Linked DNA regions of Homo sapiens. The protein of the gene in region 1 purifies or fractionates together with the protein of each later gene. This does not show direct contact. Each region holds a gene or a part of one and is shown on either strand. Other genes may lie near its edges. The genes, in order: ESCO2, CDC45, MACROH2A1, MCM10, HP1BP3 and IKBIP.

The links.
Region 2: the proteins of ESCO2 (region 1) and CDC45 purify together in Homo sapiens (affinity purification with western blotting, with the first as the bait; one study listed by BioGRID). This does not show direct contact.
Region 3: the proteins of ESCO2 (region 1) and MACROH2A1 purify together in Homo sapiens (affinity purification with mass spectrometry, with the first as the bait; one large-scale study listed by BioGRID). This does not show direct contact.
Region 4: the proteins of ESCO2 (region 1) and MCM10 purify together in Homo sapiens (affinity purification with mass spectrometry, with the first as the bait; one large-scale study listed by BioGRID). This does not show direct contact.
Region 5: the proteins of ESCO2 (region 1) and HP1BP3 purify together in Homo sapiens (affinity purification with mass spectrometry, with the first as the bait; one large-scale study listed by BioGRID). This does not show direct contact.
Region 6: the proteins of ESCO2 (region 1) and IKBIP purify together in Homo sapiens (affinity purification with mass spectrometry; one large-scale study listed by BioGRID and IntAct). This does not show direct contact.

What each region holds. Positions count from the first base shown.
Region 1 is NC_000008.11:27,788,054-27,791,553, reverse strand, and holds part of ESCO2 (N-acetyltransferase ESCO2), read right to left. Parts: intron 2,708-3,500; coding exon 2,576-2,707; intron 1-2,575. UniProt on the Homo sapiens protein: Acetyltransferase required for the establishment of sister chromatid cohesion. Couples the processes of cohesion and DNA replication to ensure that only sister chromatids become paired together.
Region 2 is NC_000022.11:19,507,420-19,510,919, reverse strand, and holds part of CDC45 (cell division control protein 45 homolog), read right to left. Parts: coding exon 3,403-3,500; intron 3,155-3,402; coding exon 3,056-3,154; intron 2,391-3,055; coding exon 2,229-2,390; intron 1-2,228. UniProt on the Homo sapiens protein: Required for initiation of chromosomal DNA replication. Core component of CDC45-MCM-GINS (CMG) helicase, the molecular machine that unwinds template DNA during replication, and around which the replisome is built.
Region 3 is NC_000005.10:135,343,732-135,347,231, reverse strand, and holds part of MACROH2A1 (core histone macro-H2A.1), read left to right. Parts: intron 1-1,174; coding exon 1,175-1,264; intron 1,265-2,551; exon of another isoform or gene 2,552-3,500. UniProt on the Homo sapiens protein: Variant histone H2A which replaces conventional H2A in a subset of nucleosomes where it represses transcription. Nucleosomes wrap and compact DNA into chromatin, limiting DNA accessibility to the cellular machineries which require DNA as a template.
Region 4 is NC_000010.11:13,196,058-13,199,557, forward strand, and holds part of MCM10 (protein MCM10 homolog), read left to right. Parts: intron 1-1,565; coding exon 1,566-1,710; intron 1,711-2,631; coding exon 2,632-2,750; intron 2,751-3,500. UniProt on the Homo sapiens protein: Acts as a replication initiation factor that brings together the MCM2-7 helicase and the DNA polymerase alpha/primase complex in order to initiate DNA replication. Additionally, plays a role in preventing DNA damage during replication.
Region 5 is NC_000001.11:20,770,308-20,773,807, reverse strand, and holds part of HP1BP3 (heterochromatin protein 1-binding protein 3), read left to right. Parts: intron 1-197; coding exon 198-357; intron 358-2,734; coding exon 2,735-2,878; intron 2,879-3,500. UniProt on the Homo sapiens protein: Component of heterochromatin that maintains heterochromatin integrity during G1/S progression and regulates the duration of G1 phase to critically influence cell proliferative capacity.
Region 6 is NC_000012.12:98,634,789-98,638,288, reverse strand, and holds part of IKBIP (inhibitor of nuclear factor kappa-B kinase-interacting protein), read left to right. Parts: intron 1-3,500. UniProt on the Homo sapiens protein: Target of p53/TP53 with pro-apoptotic function.

The DNA.
Region 1 (3,500 bases):
TATGCTTGACAAGACCACAGATGGGTGCAGTCTTACAACTATTTTAATCTCAACCCCCAGCATAGTGCTTTGGCATGTGGCCCTAGTCTTTGAATGATACTGAAATATTATGGTACTGAAAAGGGTTTAAAAACCTTGGTAAGATGTCAGTGAGCATAATGGGGAAGGTGGTTAACTTGCCTTCAGGCTAAGGCAACTAACTGAATAAGCAAAGGTGCAGAGAATGGCAAAAAAATCTGGTATAACTGACTGATTGGAAAAAATGAGGTTGAAATATTAGAAATAAATTTAATAAGATCCATGACAAAACTATAAAATGTTCCTGAAAGACATCAAAGATATGAATCAATCAGAGGTATACTAAGTTTCTAAGTATACACTAGGTTTATACTACAGTATATACTAAGTTTATATAATAGTATGTGCTATACTAAGTTCCTAAGTTATACTAAGATTTTTTTTCTCTAGAGAAAATGGCATTAGTTTGACTAGTTTGAATAAAAATTCGAATAGGTTTTTCATTTGGGGGGAATGTGATAGGCTTTTTAATTGAAAGAGTAAATGTGCAGAAAAAGTCAAGACATTTTTTACAGAGAAGGATGAAAGGGAACTTACCTAACTATACAGTATGAAGCTACATTTATAAAAGTATGGCACTAGCACAGGAACAAATGGATGGTGCAGAAGTGTCCAATAACAAACCCATTTATATGTGGGAATTTGGTATGCATTAAACGTGGCATTGCTAATCAGTGTGGAAGATAAACTAGTCAAACAGTAATGTTGGCACACTTTGCAGTCCTTTAGGAAAAATATAAGGATCCATCTCTAACACTATGTCTTGAAAAAATTCCAGTGGATTAAATGTCTAAATATAAAATTTATAGCTATAAATTTTTTTAAATATAGGAAAAACTTACTAATTTTGGGACTGAGATGATGTTCCTGACTTAAGAAACCAAAGGTCACAAACTAGCTAAATAAAAATGTTTTCTTTGTAGCAATATACACCACAAAAAGGTTAAAAAAATCCAAGTAATGGTATTTGCTTGTATATGCAGAAAATATCTCTGAAAGATATATAGATGAATCTGTTAATGCTGGATGCCTATAGATAGGGGAACGAGGTTTCTGGAAGGGGTATGGAGAAACACTTTTCACTGGATATACTTTTGCATTCTGTGAAATTTGAATCATGTGAAAGTATTACTATATCAAAAATATAAATTCAAACCTTAAAAAAAGGGACAGGGAGAATGTATTTGTAACCCAGGAATGATATTCAAAATATATAAAGGATAACATGCCCAGTATGTTTCCACAAATTAAAGAAAGAAATCCCGTATGGTATAGTCTGGCTTCATCAGAGAATGTGGCTTATTCCAGCGGCAGGAGCTTAGAGCTGGAGAGGGAATGTGTCATGTGACAAGGTGGGCAGGGGCCAAATATGAAGAGATCTGTCAGCCAAGGTAAGGAGTCTGGGTTTTATTCCTAGTGCAACAGAAAGCTGTCAAATTTGAAGCAGACAATGTCAGAACCTATGTTTTAGAAAGAACTTTCTGGCTGATGTAGAGATCAGATCAGAGAGGGCAAGAATTTAAACTACACACATACACACTTTCTCTTTTGTATGTATTTTATATGCACATATATAGGAAAGGTTGAGGCCAGATTAAAGAGCACCAAACTTCTGGTGGGAACTTTTTCTTTCCAGAAGTATGTAGAATCATACTAGACTTATGTTTCATCTATGGCTTTTTTTTTTTTTTTTTGAGATGGAGTTTTGCTCTTGTCACCCAGGCTAGAGTGCAGTGGCACAATCTTGGCTCACTGCAACCTCCACCTCCTGGGTTCAGGCGATTCTCCTGCCTCAGCCTCCCGAGTAGCTGGGATTACAGGCACCCGCCACCACGCCTGGCTAATTTTTTGTATTTTTAGTAGAGACAGGTTTTCGCCATGTTGGGCAGGCTGGTCTCAAACTCCTGACCTCAGGTGATCCACCCACCTCGGCCTCCCAAAATGCTGGGATTACAGGAGTGAGTCACTGCACCCGGCCTAGACTTATGTTTTAAAACGTTATTTCTGGTAGCACTATGGGAACCCAGAAAGCAAGCCATTTCAATAAACAGGCTAAAAATATTGTGAAGGCATTAACCGTGGCAATAAAAATAGGGAAAAAGGAATGTATCTGAGTAGCAGGTACAATCATAAAGATAGGGCCAATGATAGGATGTGTTTGGACTTGAAAGGTGTTTAATAAATGGGTGGGACCTCTCCTCTCAGAAAAAACCTGGAGAAGTCATGGGAAGGCTATTTTTTTCCTAAGGCTACCTATAAAGACAACACTATAGTGGGAAGAGAGTATCTCTGCAGTCTCTGAATTTTGTATATCTGGACTGTTCAGCTCTGCTCAGAATGCAGTGTTTACAAAATATTTATCTTAAATTGAGATAGTAAGCTTGAAACATCATCATTAAAAGTTAACTTTTCCGGCTGGGTGGTAGAGGTGGTGGAAAAGAAATGTCTCTTTTAGTTTTACTTCTAGAACAAACTGAAAGACTATGTTTTGGCTCACCACATATTTGATTCCTTCCAGAAACCTGTGGTGATGCTGTACATGCTGCATTTCATCTTCAGGGTTGGAAGCAGTATATATCATACCACAAGACTTGCACACAGTAGCCCCAAAATGTTTCTGACCAGCGTCCTATAATTGGGGGGTAAAAAAAGAAACCCATTTAAATATAGCACAAATAGCTCTAAATTAAGTTCCTATAACCATTCATTCAAATTTCACCTAATTTTTTTTTTCCTGCTGACACAAGTGAAAAACTAAATGAAAATCTGGTTACCATATCCTCCTTCCCTCCCCCAAGACAAAATGAAATGAGATCAGGCCAGGCACAGTGGCTCACGCCTGTAATCTCGGCACTTTGGGAGGCTGAGGTGGGTGGATCACTTGAGCCAAGGAGTTAGAGACCAGTCTGGGCGACATGGTGAGACTCCATCTCTTTGGGGGGGGAAAAAAAAGAGACAAGAGACCTAAAAATGCAATAAATTGATGAAAGGGAATTATTTGAATGGACAGTGTAAAAACCAAAGATTTTTTTATTTTTACAAGATTATTTACTAGACTCATGGTTCTAAGAAAGAATAAGATTAAATTGTGGAAATTACAGCTAAAATGAACAACGGAACTTTTTAATGAAACCCTTAAAGACCTGAAAAAGCCTTATTTCAAACAGGGAGGGCAAAAATTTTAGGACTTCTATATTAATTATACAATATTTTTCCTTAAGCAGCTAAGAATATTAAATTATTTTAAACAATATTAAAATTATTTGACCCAAGAGTTGACAAAAAATAGAGTGCAGGAAAAGCACAGATAAATTCAAGAATATTCAATGTCACCACCTACAACTCCCATTCTGTCACATAAAACATTGCTTAATGACATTGAAAATACCAAGTTCTGAACTGTCTAATACAGGGGTTGGCAA
Region 2 (3,500 bases), on another chromosome or scaffold:
TGGAAACAAACCACATGCCCATCAACTTATGAATGGATAAATGAAATAGAATATATCCATCCAATGGAATATTATTTATAATAAAAAGACACTGGCCGGGCATGGTGGCTGATGCCTGTAATCCCAGCACTTTGGGAGGCCGAGGCAGGTGGATCAAGAGGTCAGGAGTTCAAGACCAGCCTGAACAACACGGTGAAACCCCGTCTCTATTAAAACTACAAAAATTAGCCAGGCTTGGTGGCATGCGTTTGTAATCCCAGCTACTCGGTAGGCTGAGGCAGGAGAATTGCTTGAACCCAGGAGGCGAAGGTTGCAGTGAGCCGAGAGCGTGCCACTGGACTACAGCCTGAGCGAGAGTGAGACTCTGTCTCAGGTGGCGGACGAGGGAAAAGACATATAATCCCGATACATCCTACAATATAGATGAGCCTTGCAAATATGATGCTAAGTGAAGAACCCGGTCACAAAGAACCATATCTTATATGATCCCATTTGTATGAAATGCTCAGAACAGCCAATTCATAAAGACAAAAGGGAGACTGGTGGTTGCCAGAGGCTGGGAGGATCTCTCTGGGGCAACAAAAATGCTCTAAAATTAGATAGTGGTGATTGCTGCACAACCTTGCAAAACCTAACTGCAACCTACTAAAAGTCATTGCAGGCTGGGCACAGTGGCTCATGCCTGTTCCTCCCAGCACTTTGGGAGGCTGAGGTGAAAGGATTGCTTGAGCCTAGGAATTTGAGACCAGTCTGGGCCACATAGTGATACATCTTTACAAAAATTTTTAAAATTAGCAAGGCGTGGTGGCATGCACCTGTTGTCCCAGCTACTCAAGAGGCTGAGGTAGGAAGATTGCTTGAGACTGGGAGGTCAAGGCTGCTGTGAGCTATGATCATGCCATTGCATTCCACCCTGGGCAACAGAGCGAGACCCTGTCTCTAAAAAAATAACAATAAAATAAATAAAAGCCATCACATTGTACATTTTAAATGGGTGAATTGTATGGCATGCAAATTGTATCTCAATAAAGCAGTGGAAAAAAAAGTGTGCTTGGGAGCAGAACCAGGAAATCCCAGAAAGCAGGCCCCCATATATACATATGCATCTTTACCACTGCACAAAAGCAACAGAAGTGGCAGCTCTGTGAAGCCAGAAAAGCTGTCTGAATCATGCCTCCTCCTCCTAAAAAGTCAGGGAAATGAAATTTATACATAAAAAGCATGAGAGAAGTAGCAAAGTCAAATCCCCTCAAAGTCACTATTAGAAAAAAAGAGAATAAGGGACAGAATAACACCTCTCTGGATAATGAAAGTACACTAATGTGAAAGTTGCAGATCCCAGGATGAAATCACTTTTTGACAGGCCCAAACAAATTAAAGCTGGGAAAGCACCAAGGAGAGCTCCTGCTTGCATGTCTGGAATAAAGACTCAAAGACTTTCTAAATAACCCCACAAGAAATCCCTTCTTTAGGACTGCAACAATTCAGATAAGATGCTCTTAAAATATAACACTTGCCCAGTAATGCATCTTCACCACTGAACTGACGCCAACTCTGGCTCTGAGTCTCTGAAACCAATGAATTGTTTCCAAGCTAGCTTTCGTGAACTTCTCCTTTTGCCAATAAAAGTGTCCCCTTAGCCTCCTCTCTTTGGATGCATATTTGGCTTGCCATAGCTGTGCATCGCAGACACTATAATCCTCTTTTCTAATTCCCAAATAAATTCAGTGTATTTGGAGATATTTTTCTCTGATGTCTTTAGTCTGACACTAGACAGACATGCTAAAAAAAAGATCCAAATTGTCACATTCCATTTCAAAACAAGCGAAAAGACATGGAAAAATATAGGACATCTCAGGAAGTGAGATAAGAAAGAATTGGAAAATTAAAAAATTGAGAAATGACAACTATAAGATTAAACACAAGAACGAATATACATAACAAATAATGCCTTTTGTTAAGAGATACAAAAGGTAAAAAAAGAGAAAATTTTAAAAATCAAAAAGAAAAAAAAGCCAAAAAAGATTCAAGAGAAAGTGACAAATACTGAAGAGGGGCAGGTAATGTGTCAGGTGCACACCACACTGGCACTGTGATTCCAGTTCACCCAAGCAGTTTCTGCAGGACACAGTCACTCCCACAGCCCTGGGGTCCCCGTAACTGACCTCCCTGGGCAGTGTGAGAACCAGTGGTGGCCCCATGAGGCAAACCCACAGCCCTCCTGCTACCTGGAGAGGCTGTCCAGAGCCTGGATGAAGTGATCTGTCCCTGAGCCATCCTTCTCGGGGCTCTCCATCAAAGACATGGTGGCAAAGACCACGTCGCTGGCCAGAAACTTGTGCTTGAACCCAAAATGAATGCTGAAAGTCTGCACGCGCATGTCCTTCATCCTGTCATGGGAGCAAACACAGCTGTCACCCTCAAATTGTGGGCAAGCTCTCACTGCCAGGCAGGCCAACAGATGTGCTAATGTCCCTCACAGGCCCAAGTCAATGCTTCCAGCACAGCCATGCTGCTCAGAGGATGAGGCAGGTCAGAACGTCCAGACATACCAGCCCTGCAGCCCAGAGTGGCCGGGTGCCTTCTTGTCAACAGCTTTATGGCTGGCTTAGGGGGTGTGTGGGGTCCTCTCTCACACCTTAGCATGCCAGCTGGCTGGGGTGGGAGAAGCCAGGGGCCTCCAGGAGTGCCCATGGACTTGGTCGGGCAGAGTTCACCTGAACCTGGCCCTGTGGCCCATTTGCTGTCTCCAGTGAAACAGACTGGGGTCGACCTCACAGGTCCCACAGCAGCCCTAGGATCCAAGGATCCTAGGATCCTAAACCTCACAAGCTTGAAGAAGTCTTATTTTTAACCCAAAAAGAACTCAAGACTTCAGGAATGGCCAGACTCAGATAACACTCATTTGTACATTCTCGGGTTGTTGTTTTTTTTGCATTATTTTAGGAGCACGTTGGTTTTTTTTGCATTATTTTAGGAGCACAGTTAAAGTAGAACCCTTCACTTTAATGAACCTGGATGTAATGAAGATAAATCCAGAAAAATGTGTGTTTACCCAAATTTATTTGCAGACTCTTCAATCATTTCCCGCAAATTCTCCTTCAAGGAGATGTCCATGGCCTGGAACTTCTGCTTCACCTGCTTCAGGGGAAGACTGGAAAGAGCAAGCCCAAGCCACATGAGTGAGGTCACCACACACCGACAGGGTGGAAAGAAACCCAAACCAAGGGCAAGCGAGGATGTCCCCGCACCAGCATTCAGAAGATATTCTGGGATCTAGGGCAAGGAGCTTATGGCAGAACAGGCTGCATTTTATAACTAAGTTGGTCACAACAAAGCAGAGGGGCTTTTCCCTTGGGGGTGGCCAGGGCTGGCACTGCAGAGGCCCAGGCAGTCACTCACCCCATGTCTGCAAGGAACTCCTGGAGCCGCTTCTGTCCATGCACAGACCACAGCTTGAACCTGGCTGCGGTATAGCTGGTGTTGCACAGGCTGTCATG
Region 3 (3,500 bases), on another chromosome or scaffold:
ATTCAAAGGAGGCAAGTTTCACTAAGATAATTAACCCTGGTCATCGCAGGGTGACTCCAAAGAGAATTTGGGCTGGTGCATTCCGATGCACCTTGACCGTCCCATACCAGAATTGTGCCAGGTGCACCTGGAATTTTCCAAGACAGATGTGAATCTTAAGGGGAGTATTTTGTCCTCTTGTGAGGAAAAGTACTTTAAAATGTGCAAAACTGAGGAATCAGAGCTTAAGGAAGACTCAGACCCCATTCTGGCCAAACTTGAAAGGCTGATCTTGTTGCTAACTTTGATTGCCACTTGCTATCCCACATGAGCATCAACCCAGAGTTCTCATAGGTGTTGGTGATCTTGTTTGGGAACTTGGTTTTCACAGCAGGAACTGATTACTTAGCAAGTGCCCTAATTGAAGAAAACACATTGCTCCCAATCTCCATTGGCTTTTGTGAAAAATCTGGTCCTGAGCAGTTAGACATCCTCCTTTCCAAGCTTTTTATAGAACACAGATTAATCTTTAAGCTCTGCTTCTGATGTTGCCCTTCTTTACTGAAAACAATTCTGAATCATTAGTGTAATTAAGAAAATACCGTCTGAGGCCATTTTTATTTTGTATTTGCATATGACACCAAAGCTGCAAAACAGGAACTAAGCATGGTAATAATGCTGGTCCAAAGGTGGCCAGGTATGAACACTTCCTTCTAGGCCTGCTGCCAGGAGGAGAGCTGGCTTATTGATGGGAGCATTGTATGCTGCTGAAACCTCCTTACTTGGGGGTTCTCCCCAGAGACAGAGAAGAAAACCTAAGGCAGGCATTAGTCTTGGAAACCAGTACCAGCTAGTATCTCATGCCAATGAAAAGCATCCAGGACAAGCATGTTTGCAAAAAACAAGCATGTCCTGTCTCTTTCACATCTCTGGCACATCCATGATCACCCTGAGTCAGACCCAAATAAGGGGCAGCAGAGACAGCCAGATGAAGCAGCAATTTGAGGGTAGTAACTGGTGATGACAAAGCCCTTCTCAATTTTACTTTATTAACTTAGCCAAGGCTTAGTTCCTGTTTTGCAGCCTGATGGAAATTTAATAGATCATTTGAAGTATGTAATCACCTGACATGCTAAGTGTCTGTGTGTGCCGGAGACACAGAATGGCAACCTGACCCCACCCTGTCCTTGTCTAGGAAACACGCTGGAGAAGAAAGGTGGCAAGGAGTTTGTGGAAGCTGTCCTGGAACTCCGGAAAAAGAACGGGCCCTTGGAAGTAGCTGGAGGTGAGGTGGGAAAGCCACCGTGCTTATCTGGTTGTGACACATGCAGTATTAGGAAAGCCATTTTGTGAGAGGGCTTAGAATTCAGAGGTGTGTGGCAGCACAGCCGCATCTTCAAGATGGAGGCCAAGGACAGCCTGTAGCTTTACATCTTAGAGTTTCACCACATGCAGGTTGTCTGGGAAAATCACCTTTGCATTTTTTTTTATTACTTAAAATAGCTCCTATATGTTTGATGTCTAGATCACAAATTTTAAGAAATTATAGGAGCTGAGTTTGGTACATCTAAGAGCTGAGAGTGAGTGATACTGAGCCATCTGCAAAACTGCTGGTGAGAGATACAAATTAAAAATCTTCAGCCATCTGTGTGTGTAAGAGGAAACATATAAATACACATTTCTCATTTGCCAATTACACCTTCCCTGGTATAAGGGGAAGAAAACGACTTGGCATCTGATGTGGGGAGAATTATTGCTAAGACCTGGAGGCAGGGTACTTCTTACTGCTTCAGGCCTGAATTTAGGTGGTCATTTGGGGTGTGCAGGACAGAGCACCTCCTAAGGACCTGAGAGTCCAGTCAGTGGGGAGGCCCAGCTCCCCCACCAACTGTGTGAGGACAGATCACCCACTTCCTCACTTGGGGCTCTGGTTTTCTCTTCTTACTACCCGATTCCAATGCCTATTGTGTCTTTTAAATCCTCTGTTTTAAAAATGAATCTTAAGCTCTCTCGGAGGGTCCACCAGGCCGTGCACCTCTATTCCCAGTGACAAATGACACCCCTTCCAGGCTAGTCTCAGGATCCAGTAGGATTCCCTTTGCTGATCTGTGCCTTTGACCTCTGCTCTGCCACTTCTGTTTTACCTGCAAGGGGCATGACATACAGGGTAGTAATTATGAAGTTCTCCCAGGCAGTTCCACCAAAGTCCCACATTGTACAAGGGAAGGCATACACAGTTTTAACTACCTAGCCAGGGGCAGCTGGCCTTTCCCCAGGCCCTTTAAAACACCTGTTTGACCAGCCTGTGGGTCCTTTCCCATCGGGGTTCCAGCTTGAGTCCTGCTGGTAGCCCTTGGCACAAGGCCTGGTAGGCAGCCTGGTGCTGCCATGTACCAAACTCTGCTGGGGAAACCTCAGCCACAGCAGATGCAAACCCATTAGGTATAGCATGGTTCAAGATATTTTTGCTTGTTTCAATAACACTTTTGTTCTTGATTTTAAGGGCTATTTTAGAAACTGCTTTAAAATATTTTTGAAAGTATAAAGAGGTGAATAAAACATACTCCTGTTCCACTGTGCAAAGATAGTCACTGTTAATGTTTCTTTCCAGTCGTTTTCTATGCATAGTTTAGCCATGACTTCTCATGGGGACAAACCCACTGGTTTAATTCAACCCCCAATGTCAGGTTTTTATAGGTCAGCCCAGAGTTCTCAAGCCCAGTCACAAAGCAGAGCCAGGACTCAAATTCACACCCTGTGACTGAGCTGTTTCCACTGTACCATGAGACACTACCCACAAATCGCTCCTTCTCCAGTATCTATGACACGACCATAACAAACCATACCCCTTGGACAGATATTCCTTAAAAAAAAAAAAAGTTTCAGAAATAGCCAACCAAATACAAAAAGTTTGGATGTTTTACTTTAGCAGTGGTGTGGAGACTCTGGTGTGCTCTTGTATAGAAGCGTAGCATGCAGCTAAACCCAGTGCCCTGGAAACCTTCTTTGCAGAGCATCTGTGGACAGGGGTTCTGGAACATGCTCTGGGAGACATGGTACTTTGCAGTTTGTGGCAGACCCCAGGCCTGTGTCCTTAGATCTGGCAAGGGAAAGGCAAGTCTTTGGTGGAGATGTATAGCTAGAAAGGGGCCCCTCTTCTAGGAAAAGAAAAACACAGTTCCTTAAAAACTAATCTAATTCTGCCACAAATAAACAGGATCCGTTATTCACACAGTGAGGCCATCCTCAGCAGGGAGAAGACAATGGCAGAGTGGAGATGCTGGTCAGGTTGCTTAGCAGATCATTTAAAGCAGTTGCTTTCCTAGTAGCTTTGTCCTGAATTGGGTTTGGGAGATTTAGAGAATACATCATAGTAGAGACAAATACATCATATTGGTGTGCAAGTCGATAATTAGCACACCAGTCGACTTGAAGAAGAAGGGTTGGAAACCCAAAACAATTATTTTGAGGCTGCAAATGTTCTGACACGTTGAGTTTGCGTTCAGTTGAGTTTTGATGGA
Region 4 (3,500 bases), on another chromosome or scaffold:
CACCACGCCTTGGCTAATTTTTGTATTTTTTGTAGAGATGGGGGCCTCCCTTTGCTGCCCAAGCTGGTCTTGCACTCCTGGACTCAAGCAGTCCCACCTCAGCCTCCCAAAGTGCTGGGACTACAGGCATGAGCCACTGTGCCTAACCAAGAATCCTTTAAAAGAAATCTTACACAAAAGTCCAGTCCCATGACAGGTGAAAGCTGAGTTGCTGCGGCTGAAGTAGGGGTAGGGCACCCAGAGCCCCACCTGCCCACTTCCTGAGTGCCCCAATCGAGCCTCTCTCTTCCCTTAAGTTAGCAGCTGCAGCCAAATGAAGGGCAAAGCTTGCTGTATGCCAAAACCTTACCTATAATAATAACAACAGGAATACCTACAATAACCATGGCACATGTCCATATTACTCAGTACTTGTGATATGTGTGTGCCATGTATTTACTATGTTTATTTATTTATTTATATATATATTTTTTGAGATGGAGTCTCGCTCTGTCACCCAGGCTGGAATACAGTAGTCCGATCTCGCCTCACTGCATCCTCTGCCTCCTGGGTTCAATCAATTCTCTTGCCTCAGCCTCCCGAATTGCTGGGATTACAGGTGCCCACCACCATGCCTGACTAATTTTTGTATTTTTAGAAGAGACAGGGTTTCACCATGTTGGCCAGGCTGGTTTCGAACTCCTGACCTCAAGTGATCCACCTGCCTCAGCCTCCCAAAGTGCTGGGATTACAGGCATGAGCCACTGCGCCCGGCCAGGAATGTATTTGCTATGTAAAGATTCATACTTTGCAGATATTATCTTATTTCATCCATACAACCATGACCTTCAAAGGTAGGTCAATGCTATATCATCATTTCCTTCTCTTTTTTTGTGTGTTTGTTTTGAGACAGGGTCTCACTCTGTCTCCCAGGCTGGTGTACAGTGGTGCAATCACAGCTCACTGAAACCTCCATCTCCCTGGGCTCAGGTGATCCTCCCATCTCAGTCCCCTGAGTAGCTGGGACTACAGGCATGCACTACCATGCCCAGCTAATTTTGTACCATGCCCAGATGAAGTCTCACTGTGTTGCTCAGGCTGGTTTTAAACTCCCGAGCTCAAGAAATCCACCTGCTTCAGCCTCCCAAAGTGCTGGGTTTACAATGAGCTACCATGCCAAGCCCCATTTCCATTTTATACTTGAAAAATTAAGTAATTTTCCTTGGGTTACAAGCTAGTCCGTGGCAGAGCTGGCTGGAACTTTATCTTAATTCTCTCTGATTCTAAAACTTCCAAAATGGTGATGTGGCTCCTTTATGGATCTGGAAGCCTGCAGTCTTGCTGATGTCAAACTTGTTATATTTAAATAAACTAAGATTTTATTCATCAACATATAGACCTGTCTCCCATGCTATTATATTCTAGTAATTGTGTTAATAATACTAAGTAAAATTAAGATATGTTCTGCCAATTTCTGTCAGAGAACAGCCAGAATTCACTGGTTACTAATAAAAAAGGGATCCAGGTCTATAAGTGCCTCTGTCATCTTTTAGATCTTTACCTCCCTCTCATTCCCTTTTTTCTAGTTAGCTGCTATCACCAAATTAAGGGCAAAAGGCCAGGTTCTTACAAAAACAAACCCAAACAGCATTAAGAAGAAACAAAAGGACCCTCAGGACATCCTGGAGGTGAAGGAACGTGTAGAAAAAAACACCATGTTTTCTTCTCAAGGTACTGCAGTTTCACAGTTAACAGTGGGAAAGAGAAACTGTTTCTAAGGGAAATATGTTCTAAACCCAAACCAGCACCCAGATATCAAGCAATTACTTCCATTTCCTCCTATATAGAATACCTAAATAGAATTTCTATGGGTGGAACTGATTTTTTTTTTTTTTTTCATGGAGTCTTGCTCTGTTGCCAGGCTAGAGTGCAGTGGCGCAGTCTTGGCTCGCTACAGCCTCTGCCTCCTGGGTTCAAGCGATCCTCCTGCCTCAGCCTCACGAGTAAGTGGGACTACAAGCGCGCGCCACCACGCCCAGCTAATTTTTTGTATTTTTAGTATAGATGGGGTTTCACCATGTTGGCCAGGATGGCCTCGATCTCTTGACCTCATGATCCGCCCGCCTTGACCTCCCAAAGTGCTGGGATTACAGACGTGAGCTGGAACTGATTTTTTTATAATTACATTAAATTGGAATGAAATTGGGCACAATTTGAATACTTGGGAATAGGATTGCTCATTGGATCTTTGTACATATATATATTAGCATAAAGATTTACTTTGACAGAACTAGAATTCCTTTGTTTTAAATTGCCATATCTTTATTTTTAAAACTCTGAAGTTGGCAATATCATTTTAACATAATTGTCAACATTATTTACACTGTTGTTATCTGTTACTATCGTCAGCTGCCTATTTGAAGGTGAAAAAGAGATTCTATTTAGTGGTAAAATCTGCCACCACCCCACATTCTAGGCTCAGCTTCTTGGCTCACCTCTGAGAGCTTTTCCCTGCTGGGACCAGCGGGGGTAGGTCAAGTTTGAAGGGCTGGTAGGCAGAGGAGGAGGGAGTGGGAGGGAGTAGAGTTGATGAGGCGCACTGGCTTTCTGAAATTTCTTGGTCGCTGCTAATGTTTGTTCCTTGTGCCCTAGCTGAGGATGAATTGGAGCCTGCCAGGAAAAAAAGGAGAGAACAACTTGCCTATCTGGAATCTGAGGAATTTCAGAAAATCCTAAAAGCAAAATCAAAACACACAGGCATCCTGAAAGAGGTAAGAGCCCAAAAGCTCAAGGATGGTGTTGATGTCCGATGTCCTTCAAAGCCAAGGTGCTAGCTGTAGGACCAAGAATGTGTTGTTTGTTTTATTTTGTTTTTCTGAGACAGAGTCTCAGTCTGTGGCCCAGGCTGAAGTGCAGTGGCGCCATCTCGGCTCAATGCAAGCTCCGCCTCCCAGGTTCAAGCGATTCTCCTGCCTCAGCCTCCCAAGTAGCTGGGATTACAGGTGCCTGCCACCACACGAAGCAAATTTTTGTGTTTTTAGTAGGGACAGAGTTTCACCGTGTTGGCCAGGCTGATCTCTAACTCCTGACCTCAAGTGATCCTCCAGCCTTGGCCTCCCAAAGTGCTGGGATTACAGGCGTGAGCCACCATGCCCGTACCCAGCCAAGAATCTGTTTTTTACATAAATCTAAAAGTAGGTATATGTCAGTTTGTTTGAGTTTGCTTTGAAGAACAGGAGAATTTCTAATAAATTTTAGCTTTGTCCTTGTCTCTTTACTGAAGAATATCATTTGATTTAACATGACTTAAATAGATATCAATATTATAAAAATGTTTGCATTTGGTTATGGCTGTGAAATTATGTTTAAATGGCTCTACACTGCTGCTATTTTCTGCCTTGCAATATGCAAAAAGAGTTTTCCCATTCCAGTATTTTTATATTGGCATTTCAAATGCTCTAAATCAGTAGTTAACCCCATCACACCCAAGGACCCTTTTTAATAACAAGTATTTTGTATTG
Region 5 (3,500 bases), on another chromosome or scaffold:
ACCTTTTTAATTCATTTATAGTACCCAGTTTTTAAAGAAGATTTATTTTGTAAAATTTTGCTTATGGTACATGTCATCTTAGCCTGTAAATAAATTAAAGCATTAATTTTTATCCCTCCCTGGTCTTTTCCTCCTTCTGACTTTATACGTCTTTCTAGAGAGCTTATCTTCTATAATAACAATTCTTTGTTTTAAAGTGAGAAAGATCAGTCTAAAGAAAAGGAGAAGAAAGTGAAAAAAACAATTCCTTCCTGGGCTACCCTTTCTGCCAGCCAGCTAGCCAGGGCCCAGAAACAAACACCGATGGCTTCTTCCCCACGTCCCAAGATGGATGCAATCTTAACTGAGGCCATTAAGGCAAGTTTTTATTTCAAGCAATTCATCTTAGATTTATTATGTTCATTTTTTTCTTATTTGAAAATGGCATATATCTGTCTAGACATCATAAATCTTGTTCTGCTTCCTAAAGGAGTTTTAAAGAGAGGAAAGTCATTATAAGTTCATGTTTTTCTAATATAATCACATTTGGTGAACACTGTTAATTTTTTTAAAAAAATTATATTTAATATAGCAAATATTTTAACTTTAGAATTTTTAAATGCAGTTTATCGATTAAGTACAGTTTTTATTTGAAGGCTGAAAATGTTAATTCATTGAACAAACATTTAAGGACTACCTTCCTCTGTTGGGCGCCCCTGCTAGTGGTGAATTAACTAAGGCTAGCAAAGTCCTTGCCCTTATAAATCTAATTGTGACTCAGTAACTGAAAAATATTGAGAATTTTTGTTTAAAAAATATCTCTAGGTTCATTTCTAAAGCTAAGTGATCTTGGTAGTGGTTATCTTTCACACCTGAACCCTGTTAATAAACACTGCTTTATTACCTAGACATTCCAAAATGCTTACAAAAATTATCCTCCTTACATAGATTTATGATTTCATTGACTTTCATTAGATGTAGTTTTCCTATTTTAATTTTTAAAGGTTATCTTCTAATTTGACATTGCCTTTATTGTATAAGTCTTTTCATTTAATTTTGCCTTGTTTAGTTCATATGATCAGATGATAAGAGGAGTTAGAACAGACCCATCTTTCAGGGACCCTGTTGTTAGGATCTGAGGCAGGACTGGGGAGACAGGGATACAGATGATTTTAACCAGAAAAGGGGGGATGTGTACGAAAAGGAGCAGCCTGGTTGTCATTCTCAGAATATGAGAAGATAGCACTAACACATAAACTGGAAAAAGGGTTTGCCTTCAGACTTCTCCCTTTACTCCTTCAAGACTTCTTATGCTCTCACCTCATTAAGAAAACTTTATTGGTCTAGATTACCTCACTGTAGTGAAATCTCTGTTCTTTGTATAGCCTTTCTTCAAGGATTTCACTTGATGACCACTCAGCCTGGGTTTGAAGGAGCAGCATCATAGTGAGGATGGAAAAAGGGCTGAAACTTTAAAATAGTGAAATAAAAAATTAAAACAATATCAATTTGGCTTAAAGAATGGTTTGAATATAATTGTGCATATTTATGGAGATGATTGATTTTATATAGATAATGTGTATTCCATGCAATATGACAAATTATTGTTTCAGACCATGGATACCATTTTCTGTATTGAACAGGAATCATGATGTCTACTACCATCTCACTGTCGGATTGGTGGAGCAAAAGATTATTTGTTTCAGCATTAGTGTTCTTTTCTGCTTGATTTTCTTTGCTCTGTGTTTTCTTTTAAGATCAGGAGTAAACCTCAGTAGGTCATTAATAGTTCAGAGACATAGACTTGAATTACATGACCCATATTAATACAACTTGTTTCGTGTTGTGCAATCTTTTCTGGACCATCTACCTGTGAGTTATTTTTCTTTGTTGTCAAAATGTATAAAAACATTCAACGAAGTTCTTATCCAATGAGAATGAATAAGTGCTACATTGATTTAATAGACACTGTGGCAGTACAAAATTGATGGACTAGCTCATTAGATAAATGACAGATGCTACTTTTGTGTGTTTCAAAATTTAAAGTATTTGATTTCAAGTCAGTGACCAGTTGGAAAACAAAATTTTAAGCATTTGAAAAAAATTAAGTATTTGCTGCCTTTGTGACATAATGAGCTACTTAATTCTTCCAGGTGCATTAGTCAAATGGAGTATAAGTAAAATAGGATGGAAATGGAAGAGGGCACATTAAATTCAAATAGAACACCTTCACTATTACCCAAAACTCTCCTTCAGCACTTTGCCATCTGTAAACCCATTTTTATGCCACTTATTCAGATTATCTTTGATTCTTCTTTCTGCTGACATTCATACAGAGCCTTCAGGGAAATGTCCTGGCATGCTCATTCCTTAAGCTCGTGCCTTAAAATGGGACAGATCTGTGATCCTGTAAGTGATAGGTTTGTTCTGCTTTTCTCATTTTGATGCCAAAGATTCATCTTCTAAATACAGAATGGAATTAAAATGGAAAGAGGTTCTTCATTATACATAGAATGTTGTTCGTGTTCAGTATGGTCTCTTAGGCTGTTTTGAACAATTTAAAATTGTAGTAGAAATATTTAGTAATTCTGTTACTTCTCTGTAGTCATTATGAACTGAAGTCTTCTGAAGTTCATTCTTCCCTACCGTTTTTGTCATCTATCATCAAATTCACTTCCAAAATAATTTATTTTGAAAATATATGTCAGGCTCTATCTAATAAAAAAAAACAACTAGTTTAATAAATCTTTTCTAGGCATGCTTCCAGAAGAGTGGTGCATCAGTGGTTGCTATTCGAAAATACATCATCCATAAGTATCCTTCTCTGGAGCTGGAGAGAAGGGGTTATCTCCTTAAACAAGCACTGAAAAGAGAATTAAATAGAGGAGTCATCAAACAGGTATTACACAATTGTTAGTAGTAAGATCATTTCATTGTGTATTAGCTTTAAGTCTACAGTTAGTAACATTTAGGCTTTTTGTGCCTTTTTTGTTAAAAATAAGTTTCATGATGATGAAATTCCTTAAGTTTAACCTAGTTGAATTATCTGAGGCTAGGTTTCGAAAATGCTGGTGCCATTAAGATAGTGTAACTTTTTTCTAGCTTACTTTGCTCTTAATTGGATATTTTTTGGGGGGCTGCTTGTGCTTGAAATCATGTAGCACTGAACATGAAAAAGAGGTAAGGAATCCTACTACTGAAACAGCAAAAATGAGGCTAGGGATGGTGGCCTACACCTGTAGTCCCAGCACCTTGGGAGGCTTAGTTGGGAGGATCACTTGAGCCCAGGAGTTCGAGACCAGCCTGGGCAACATAGCAAGACCCCTTCTCTACAAAAAATACAAAATCAGCAGGGTTTGGTGACACATGCCTCTAGTCCCAGGTACTTGGAAGGCAGAGGCAGGAGGACCGCTTGAGCCTGGGAGGTTGAGGCTATTGTGAGTTACGATCTCACCACTCCAGCCTCGGTGAGAGTGAGACCCTGTCTGAAAACAAAAAGGAATAACAGAAATAATAATTGC
Region 6 (3,500 bases), on another chromosome or scaffold:
ATAAGGTATTATCCCCACTTCACAGATGAGGAAACATCAAAGTTATTTAACTTGCCCAAAGTGGTTATACAGCTTAGTAAATGGCAGAGCTAAGGCAGTCCAGTCACCCACCTAATCAGTATGATTCGTTGCCTCCATTCGATATTAATCCCCAACAAAAGGCCAAGATCCTAGAAATAGAAATCCCCAAGTCCAGAATTACTTATAGTTCTTTTCTTCCTTCTACTTGAAGGTATACCCTTTAGCAGACCCTAATTGCTTGTTTTTCACTCTCATCTAAATGGGAAGACTGGGAACTGCTCTCACTAGAATATGCCCCTGACTCATAAAAAGGAAATAAAGGACCTTATACCCTAACATGGATGCCAGTTTGAAAGCTTAGTTTTTCAGATCTGAAGCAGCTTTCTCAGCATATTTTCTTGACTTCTAGAAAATCAGTCATCTAGGCTGGGTGCGGTGGCTCACGCCTGTAATCACTTGAACCTGGGAGGTGGAGGTTGCAGTTAGCCAAGATCATGCCACTGCACTCCAGCCTAGGCAGCAGAGCGAGACCCTGTCTCAAAAAAAGGAAAGAAAGAAAAAAGCCGGGCGCGGTGGCTCACGCCTGTAATCCCAGCACTTTGGGAGGCTGAGGCAGGCGGAACATGAGGTCAAGAGATCGAGACCATTCTGGCCAACATGGTGAAACCCCATCTCTACTAAAAATACAAAAATTAGCTGGGTGTGTTGGCACACGCCTGTAGTCCCAGCTACTCGGGAGGCTGAGGCAAGAGAATCACTTGAACTCGGGAGGCAGAGGTTGCAGTAAGCCAAAATCGTGCCACTGCACTCCAGCCTGGTGACAGAGTGAGACTCCATCTCAAAAAAAACAAAAAGAAAGAAAAATCAATCATCTTCTTTAATGTTAAATGAATTAATATTTATCAAGTACTTAGAATAGTGTCTGGCACAAATAAGGGAAAAATAAAATATATTTTAACGCAGCACAGCACATATCACTTCATTTTTTTCATCACTAGTGCTGAGTCAGCTTTGTACTTTTTTCTTATATGCACCGTTCACATGTAGCAAGGATGAATTTTTTTTTATTTTAGTAAGAGGCTAATCAAAAAAAACTACTAATTATCAGAGATGATATTTCCACTAACATGACACAGGTTGTGTTTAAAGCTTGAATTTGAAAAGAAGTTCTGAGAAAGTTCATTAATGTATTTTTTGTAATGAATCAACCTTCATACGAAAGTCTCTTATAATAATGATTTCATTCTGAATAAACTCGCTAATCTATAGTATAGATCTATGGTGGAGTATTGGATAATAAAACTAGTCCCTGAAATGAACTGTGTTTCTTCTTTTACTTTTTTTTTTTCCCCCCTGGCAGGGAGGGACAGGAAGGCGTGAGGAGGGCAACTCTTATTTCTTTAGGGTGGTCTCTTTCTTAATAAGGTCTCTATCTGCTGGTCTTAGATATCCAATACTCTGGGGGAAAAAAAAAAAATCCTAAAAGCCAGAAATGAAACAGCCAATGAAAAAAGAATTATGTTCACCCTTCCATCTCAGAGAATTAGGATAATAGTGTTTTCTAATAACCAGAAGCTTTAAAGGTTCCTATTAATTTAAACACAGGAGAAAAGTCAATCTGTGCTAATAATGTAACCTGGGATCCCGTATAATAGAAATTAGCCAGCATCATCAAAAGAAATGTATTTCCTCCAGTATTGTAAACATTTGTCTAATTTAGCTTTGGACAGTTTTGTAGCTACGGTTAGCCTAATGATGCCATTTATGAATTCAAAGCATTACCACTTTTGCAAGGATGCACAAAGTTCAGATAACTGCATTTACTCAGAAAAGTCTTTCACCTCTCCATTAATCCTTGGGATCTTTAAATGATTGCCTTTCAGTGGAAATGAATTTCACAAAACATGGTCAGTCAGTATGGTTCTAAGTTTGGCTGTGCACTTAGATTACCTGAGAAGCTGTTGAGTTTCCAACATCCAAGCCACATCCCAAGCCAATTAAATCAGAATCTTTGTGAGACCCAGGCATCAGATTTGTTAAAGCTGCCAGGTTATTACAATATGTAGCAAAGCTTTTGAACCACTTGTCTCAGGACTGTGTTTAGGCAGGTACTTATGGTTCTGCTCCATTGCGTTTTGATGACTCAATATGCAAAGAATTTCAAGTGTTTTTTTCTGAGCCTAAAGAATTGAGTTAAAGTAGACAAAATGGTATTGGATCCAAGACAATTCTTTTATGCTTGCTCATTTCAAATCCTGTATAAACAGATGTTGATTTGTTGTTTTGAAGATTGAGATAGCTTTTTGGGCTTCCACCCATAATGAAGAATAAACTCCAATTTTAGAGTGACATCTCAAGTACACCTATACGAGTCACATCACTGAGTATAACCAATTGTGCAGTTTATACACTCTGCACTGATTGTGATCTATTGTCACTTTGGCAATGGCTTTTTTCTATTTTCATACCTCTTTTCACACCTCCTGCTATTTTGCAACTTCTAATTACTATCACTTCTCTCTTCTACTCCACTGCTTTTTATCAGTCAACTCTTCTACATTTCAGTTTTAAAATACTTTTTATAGACGACTCTTGTTTCGCCTACATTTCAGCATAAAAACACCTATTTTCTAGATATTACCCAATCATGGCCTTGTGAAAAACAGTAGAGATCAAAGATCTTGTTCTAAATTTTTCACTTTGTCCTCCTCTAAAATATTTCTTGTGCATGCATCTATTACAGATATCACACCATCTTATTTGGTGGGCTGTGAATTGTGAACAAGGGCAGTGCTTTACTCATCTTTGCATGAGTTAAACCAGTACCTACCACATGAAAATCTGTCAAAAGAAACTGATAAAAGCTGCATCTAGGCTGGACATGTTGACCCACACTTGTAATCCCAGCGCTTTGGGAGGCTGAGGGGAGGATCACTTGAGGCCAGGAATTCAAGACCACCTTGGGGCTGGGCACAGTGGCTCATGCCTGTAATCCTAGCACTTTGGGAGGCCAAGGCGGGCAGATCACTGGTCAGGAGTTCAAAACCAGCCTAGCCAACATGGTGAAACCCCATCTCTACTAAAAATATTAAAAAATTGGTGGGGCGTGGTGGCAGGTGCCTTTAATCCCAGCTACTTGGGAGGCTGAGGAGGAGAATCGCTTGAACCCAGGAGGCAAAGGTTGCAGTGAACCGAGATCGTGCCATTGCACTCCAGCCTGGGCAACAAGAGCAAAACTCCATCTAAAAAAAAAAAAAAATACCGGGCGTGGTGGCTCACGCCTGTAATCCCAGCACTTTGGGAGGCCAAGGCAGGTGGATCACAAGGTCAGGAGATCGAGAGCATCCTGGCTAACACAGTGAAACCCCGTCTTTACTAAAAATACAAAAAATTAGCCAGGCGTGGTGGCAGGCGCCTGTAGTCGTAGCTACTCGGGAGGCTGAGGCAGGAGAATAGCGTGAACCCAGGAGGCGGAGCTT